2 linked regions of the Homo sapiens genome follow. The protein of the gene in region 1 interacts with the protein of each later gene in a biochemical or structural test. Each region holds a gene or a part of one and is shown on either strand. Other genes may lie near its edges.

Region 1 (3,752 bases):
AATAACTTAATATCCACTTTTCTGAGAAGTAATGTTCTAGAGTTATAACCTTTCAAAAATATTTTCTATTCGTAGGGATTCTTCGGCACTTTCTCGCGATACTGTTTACTAATGTAATATAACCAAGTAGACAGCAGCTATACTTGAAAACAGGTTACAGTGACGTGAAAACCAGATAAAACAATGAAGCAATGCCACAGGGAAAAACAAAACGTTCAAACATTATCCATATTTTCCCTATTGTCAAGTGTCTTTGATGGCCAAGTAACCAGACCAAGACGACCCTAATAAATTCGAGATAAATGACTGTTAAGCTTTGCGGACTGCAAAACATTACTATAAATCAAGCTAAAGTCACAATTCCTGCTCCCGATGGCTCACGCCTTCCTTCTAACTGTAACATCATGAAAAAGTAAAGGTGGTCCTAGTTAGCGTCTTTTGGTGTTTTATTTGCACGTGGTGGTTAACTGGGGTCGTGGTGGCAACTTCGGTGGTAGAGAAGTTGCACACACTCTCAACGAGGTGTTTGGGTCCTAAAGCACTTAAATCTTCATTCACGGAGGCTCGTGAATTATATAATACAGACTAGCATTTCCGGTAAGGTAACAGGAAGTCCACTGTACTCTTCTCACTGCCTAAGGAGCATTCTCATTTTTCTCGGCTTACAAATCTGGATGCTCTTAGCCTGGTGAGGATGCTGTGGGGCTTAAATGCCTCGTGTGCTTTGAAATCCTGAGATGAAAGATATCGCAGCATTGCAAATAGCAATAATAAGGCCTTCTATTTATGTTTACTGTACACTCAGGCGTTTGGCTGGGACCACGGCTTATTCCTAAGCAGGTACAGGACATTAGCATTACCTGCCCAAAGAACAATGCATCCAAACACAGACCCAGCTACCTCCGGGTCAATGGGCGAGGGACGCAGAGAGGGAGGAGCTCCCGCAGCCGGCGGCCGCGGAACCCAGGAAACAACCCCATCCGCCCGAGGCGCTCTGTGGGGGCGGCCTCGACCTCCCCGCCGTTCCTCCCCGCGGAGCACCAGACCCGGGGCCGACGGCCGCGGGGCGGACAGCTTCTCTCTCGGGGCCGGGATGCGCTGAGCACCTCGGTCCAACCTGTTTTTCCGGGGTGGTGACCTCGACGCGAAGGACCGGGCGAGCTGCTGCCTCCCGGGGGATACCAGCCCCCGGCGCTCGTTCAAGGAGGGAGGAAGGAAGGGCTCCCATCGTGTTTGCGCAGGAGTGAGTTTTATTTGCTGCATCTGCGGGCGGGCGGGGCCGGCGGCCCCAAGGTCAGCCGAGGCCGGAGTGCGCGGCTCGCGGCGAGGCCGGTCCCGCCGCCGCCGCCGACTCCCAGCCCGGGCCAGTCACGGCCGGCGCCGGCTCGCGGGCAGCCCAGTAGCGCGGCCTGGCTGAAGAAGACATCCCTGGCCGCGCAGGCCCCGCGCCCCTCACACCCGCCCGGCCCGCTCCCAGATACCTTCTTCAGCTCGTTCTCGCTGGCGCCGGGCGGGACGCCCAGGATGTCGTACAGCTTCGTGTCAGCCACGTTAGCCATGGCGGCCGGCCGGGCAGTGCTCGGGGAGAAGGTGGCGAAGCAGACAGAGCGGAGTCGGGCCCACAAGCGGCGTCGGCGGCGGCACAGGCCGAGGGAGACAGCGAGGGGGAAGCGGGGGCGGGGCTGAACTTTGACCCAGCGCACGGTGCGCCGTGACGTCGCTGTGCAGAGCCCGCCCCCGAGCGCCCGAGGCGCGGCCACTGGGGTCGAAGTATTGAAGAGTGGGCCAGGTTCTCTGTTTTCCTCCAGGTCCAGGCGGCTGGGCAGGGCCAACGTAGGAAATGAAGAACTGTGCACGGCGCACCCCAGGAATTCAGCTTCCTCTCAAAAGCCATGGTTGCGAGGTCGCGTGTTTAACCTCGCACTGGCTGCTGAGGGAATTAACAGGCCTGCGCAGCAGCTTCGTTAGCTTCGAAAGAAAATGGGCCCCGGCTCCCGCAGGAGGCCCGCCTGGCGCGCAGATGTCGTTATTAGAATCCGGGACGTCGGTGGACCCTCTGGGTCTGGCTCCCTCGGGGCTTACGATGAAAAAAACTGGGGGGCGCGTGTGTGTGTATGTTGTGTTTTATATTATGAGAATTCTGAAACATTTAGCAGAAGCAGTATATTACTCCCCATAGTGCAGTTAGCTACCTTTTACCTGTTTCATTGGCTCCACCATACATTTCTAGTGTTTTAAGGGAAACCGTTTCATTCATAAATACCCTAAGTGTATATATTTAATATCTAAGAGACAACTTTTAAAGGCATAACGATGTAATCTCATCTAATGAAATTAACAATTCCTTAATCTAATTCCCAGTCCATATTTAGGTTTTTCAGATGATCTCATGTCCTTTTACAATTGGTTTGTGGCATCCGGGTCCAAACCAAGGTCCACATGTTGCATCTGGACCACGTGTTTAAGCCTCTTACTTGATAGCTTTAAAATTAGCTAACACCAGAGGTTTAGATGGTGTAAGGCAAGTCTGGCCACCAGGTGACTTGATTTACATTCGTTTTAGTTTCGCTCAGAAAGTATGCTGTGCATCTACCAAGTGCTATGATGTACAGAGGCCTGGTCCGGGGAGAGGAGTGTTACAAAAGTGCCTGCCTTCAACCCATTTACGGTTTATGGAGACAGAAAAGTAAGGTTTTCTGATCCCTTGGAACCTGAACTGATAGCAAAGACTTCAGCATAAGCATCTCACTCAGGATAATGTTTCTTCCTTGGCGTTCCCTTTGACCTAGTTGTGGAGGGCCTGAATTCCATGACAAGGACTCTGAAATTTAGCTTGAAAACCCTAAGAGTAATCAGTGATAAGTCATTAATAGTCCTTAAACCCTTTTCCTCAAATCCCATCTGAAATCCTGCTCCCTCTGTGAAGTCTTCCTTTACTGGGCACTGGTGAACACTGCTATCTCATTCGAGTTCCCACCACCCTTCGTTTGTACCTTTTGTGGTAGGATCTCGAACTCTTTTGTTTTTTTTTTTTTTTTTTTTTTTTTACTTGAAACAGCGTCTCGTTATGTCGCTCAGGCTGGAGTGCAGTGGCGCCATCTCAGCTCGCTGCAACCTCCACCTCCCGGCTTCAAGTGATTCTCCCACCTCAGCCTCTCGAGTAGCTGGGATTACAGGCGCCCACCACCATGCCCGGCTAATTTTTGTATTTTTAGTAGAGGTGGAGCTTCACCATGTTGACCAGGCTGGTCTCGAACTCCTGATCTCAAATCATCCACCCACCTTGGCCTCCCAAAGTGCTGGGATTGCAGGCCTGAGCCACTGCCTCTGCCAACCGCCATTGCCGTGTAAATGCTGACGTCATCCTCATGCACGGCTGTAAAATCCAATTCTCTACTTTTCACATTTTGAGATGTTCGTAAGAGACGGTGTAAAGTTATGGCGAGGTTAGACTGTGTAGGTTGGTAGTCTGACTCTGCCATTTAGGAACAATGTGACCTTCAGCAAGTTACTTAACTTTTCTGAGGTTTCCTCAGGTGTAAGATGGGGCTTGTTATTTTTTATATCATTGGTTTAAAAGAGTTATACATTTCTATTACTTAGGGCTGGGCGCAGTGGCCTGTAATCCCAGAACTTTGGGAGGCTGAGGCGGGATCACTCCTGCCTCAAGTCCTGATCACTTGAGGTCAGGAGTTCGAGACCAGCCTGGTCAACATGGCAAGACCCCGTCTCTATTAAAAACACAAAAATTA
Region 2 (3,752 bases), on another chromosome or scaffold:
CACCCACAGAAGATGAACTTTGTGGCGCCCCACCCTCCAGCCCTCCCCGTGACATCTTCCAGTTTTTTTGCTGCCCCAAACCCATACTGGAATTCACCAACTGGGGGTATATACCCCAACACTAGGCTCCCCACCAGCCATATGCCTTCTCATCTGGGCACTTACTACTAAAGACCTGGCGGAGGCTTTTCCCATCAGCGTGCATTCACCAGCCCATCGCCACAAACTCTATCGGAGAACATGAATCAAAAGTGCCTCAAGAGGAATGAAAAAAGCTTTACTGGGGCTGGGGAAGGAAGCCGGGGAAGAGATCCAAAGACTCTTGGGAGGGAGTTACTGAAGTCTTACTACAGAAATGAGGAGGATGCTAAAAATGTCACGAATATGGACATATCATCTGTGGACTGACCTTGTAAAAGACAGTGTATGTAGAAGCATGAAGTCTTAAGGACAAAGTGCCAAAGAAAGTGGTCTTAAGAAATGTATAAACTTTAGAGTAGAGTTTGGAATCCCACTAATGCAAACTGGGATGAAACTAAAGCAATAGAAACAACACAGTTTTGACCTAACATACCGTTTATAATGCCATTTTAAGGAAAACTACCTGTATTTAAAAATAGAAACATATCAAAAACAAGAGAAAAGACACGAGAGAGACTGTGGCCCATCAACAGACGTTGATATGCAACTGCATGGCATGTGCTGTTTTGGTTGAAATCAAATACATTCCGTTTGATGGACAGCTGTCAGCTTTCTCAAACTGTGAAGATGACCCAAAGTTTCCAACTCCTTTACAGTATTACCGGGACTATGAACTAAAAGGTGGGACTGAGGATGTGTATAGAGTGAGCGTGTGATTGTAGACAGAGGGGTGAAGAAGGAGGAGGAAGAGGCAGAGAAGGAGGAGACCAGGGCTGGGAAAGAAACTTCTCAAGCAATGAAGACTGGACTCAGGACATTTGGGGACTGTGTACAATGAGTTATGGAGACTCGAGGGTTCATGCAGTCAGTGTTATACCAAACCCAGTGTTAGGAGAAAGGACACAGCGTAATGGAGAAAGGGGAAGTAGTAGAATTCAGAAACAAAAATGCGCATCTCTTTCTTTGTTTGTCAAATGAAAATTTTAACTGGAATTGTCTGATATTTAAGAGAAACATTCAGGACCTCATCATTATGTGGGGGCTTTGTTCTCCACAGGGTCAGGTAAGAGATGGCCTTCTTGGCTGCCACAATCAGAAATCACGCAGGCATTTTGGGTAGGCGGCCTCCAGTTTTCCTTTGAGTCGCGAACGCTGTGCGTTTGTCAGAATGAAGTATACAAGTCAATGTTTTTCCCCCTTTTTATATAATAATTATATAACTTATGCATTTATACACTACGAGTTGATCTCGGCCAGCCAAAGACACACGACAAAAGAGACAATCGATATAATGTGGCCTTGAATTTTAACTCTGTATGCTTAATGTTTACAATATGAAGTTATTAGTTCTTAGAATGCAGAATGTATGTAATAAAATAAGCTTGGCCTAGCATGGCAAATCAGATTTATACAGGAGTCTGCATTTGCACTTTTTTTAGTGACTAAAGTTGCTTAATGAAAACATGTGCTGAATGTTGTGGATTTTGTGTTATAATTTACTTTGTCCAGGAACTTGTGCAAGGGAGAGCCAAGGAAATAGGATGTTTGGCACCCAAATGGCGTCAGCCTCTCCAGGTCCTTCTTGCCTCCCCTCCTGTCTTTTATTTCTAGCCCCTTTTGGAACAGAAGGACCCCGGGTTTCACATTGGAGCCTCCATATTTATGCCTGGAATGGAAAGAGGCCTATGAAGCTGGGGTTGTCATTGAGAAATTCTAGTTCAGCACCTGGTCACAAATCACCCTTAATTCCTGCTATGATTAAAATACATTTGTTGAACAGTGAACAAGCTACCACTCGTAAGGCAAACTGTATTATTACTGGCAAATAAAGCGTCATGGATAGCTGCAATTTCTCACTTTACAGAAACAAGGGATAACGTCTAGATTTGCTGCGGGGTTTCTCTTTCAGGAGCTCTCACTAGGTAGACAGCTTTAGTCCTGCTACATCAGAGTTACCTGGGCACTGTGGCTTGGGATTCACTAGCCCTGAGCCTGATGTTGCTGGCTATCCCTTGAAGACAATGTTTATTTCCATAATCTAGAGTCAGTTTCCCTGGGCATCTTTTCTTTGAATCACAAATGCTGCCAACCTTGGTCCAGGTGAAGGCAACTCAAAAGGTGAAAATACAAGGTGACCGTGCGAAGGCGCTAGCCGAAACATCTTAGCTGAATAGGTTTCTGAACTGGCCCTTTTCATAGCTGTTTCAGGGCCTGTTTTTTTCACGTTGCAGTCCTTTTGCTATGATTATGTGAAGTTGCCAAACCTCTGTGCTGTGGATGTTTTGGCAGTGGGCTTTGAAGTCGGCAGGACACGATTACCAATGCTCCTGACACCCCGTGTCATTTGGATTAGACGGAGCCCAACCATCCATCATTTTGCAGCAGCCTGGGAAGGCCCACAAAGTGCCCGTATCTCCTTAGGGAAAATAAATAAATACAATCATGAAAGCTGGCAGTTAGGCTGACCCAAACTGTGCTAATGGAAAAGATCAGTCATTTTTATTTTGGAATGCAAAGTCAAGACACACCTACATTCTTCATAGAAATACACATTTACTTGGATAATCACTCAGTTCTCTCTTCAAGACTGTCTCATGAGCAAGATCATAAAAACAAGACATGATTATCATATTCAATTTTAACAGATGTTTTCCATTAGATCCCTCAACCCTCCACCCCCAGTCCAGGTTATTAGCAAGTCTTATGAGCAACTGGGATAATTTTGGATAACATGATAATACTGAGTTCCTTCAAATACATAATTCTTAAATTGTTTCAAAATGGCATTAACTCTCTGTTACTGTTGTAATCTAATTCCAAAGCCCCCTCCAGGTCATATTCATAATTGCATGAACCTTTTCTCTCTGTTTGTCCCTGTCTCTTGGCTTGCCCTGATGTATACTCAGACTCCTGTACAATCTTACTCCTGCTGGCAAGAGATTTGTCTTCTTTTCTTGTCTTCAATTGGCTTTCGGGCCTTGTATGTGGTAAAATCACCAAATCACAGTCAAGACTGTGTTTTTGTTCCTAGTTTGATGCCCTTATGTCCCGGAGGGGTTCACAAAGTGCTTTGTCAGGACTGCTGCAGTTAGAAGGCTCACTGCTTCTCCTAAGCCTTCTGCACAGATGTGGCACCTGCAACCCAGGAGCAGGAGCCGGAGGAGCTGCCCTCTGACAGCAGGTGCAGCAGAGATGGCTACAGCTCAGGAGCTGGGAAGGTGATGGGGCACAGGGAAAGCACAGATGTTCTGCAGCGCCCCAAAGTGACCCATTGCCTGGAGAAAGAGAAGAAAATATTTTTTAAAAAGCTAGTTTATTTAGCTTCTCATTAATTCATTCAAATAAAGTCGTGAGGTGACTAATTAGAGAATAAAAATTACTTTGGACTACTCAAAAATACACCAAATTCTGTGCCTTCTTTTTATCTTTTAACCTTGGTTTAAAGAAATCTTGTTGACTCACACCTGTAATCCCAACACTTTGAAGGACAGAGGCGGGTGGATCGCTTGAGCCCGGGACCAGCCTGGGCAACATGAGAGTACCCAGTCTCTACAAAAAAATAAATAAATACAAAAAGCCGGGCATGGTGGTGCACAACTGCAGTCCCAGGA

What was found. The genes of interacting proteins can lie anywhere in the genome.
Region 2: the proteins of DNAJA2 (region 1) and ERG form a complex in vitro, tested with the Homo sapiens proteins (one study listed by BioGRID).

What each region holds. Positions count from the first base shown.
Region 1 is NC_000016.10:46,972,014-46,975,765, forward strand, and holds the start of DNAJA2 (dnaJ homolog subfamily A member 2), read right to left. Parts: upstream 1,662-3,752; 5' UTR 1,560-1,661; coding exon 1,482-1,559; intron 1-1,481. UniProt on the Homo sapiens protein: Co-chaperone of Hsc70. Stimulates ATP hydrolysis and the folding of unfolded proteins mediated by HSPA1A/B (in vitro).
Region 2 is NC_000021.9:38,379,822-38,383,573, reverse strand, and holds the end of ERG (transcriptional regulator ERG), read left to right. Parts: coding exon 1-171; 3' UTR 172-3,538; downstream 3,539-3,752. UniProt on the Homo sapiens protein: Transcriptional regulator. May participate in transcriptional regulation through the recruitment of SETDB1 histone methyltransferase and subsequent modification of local chromatin structure.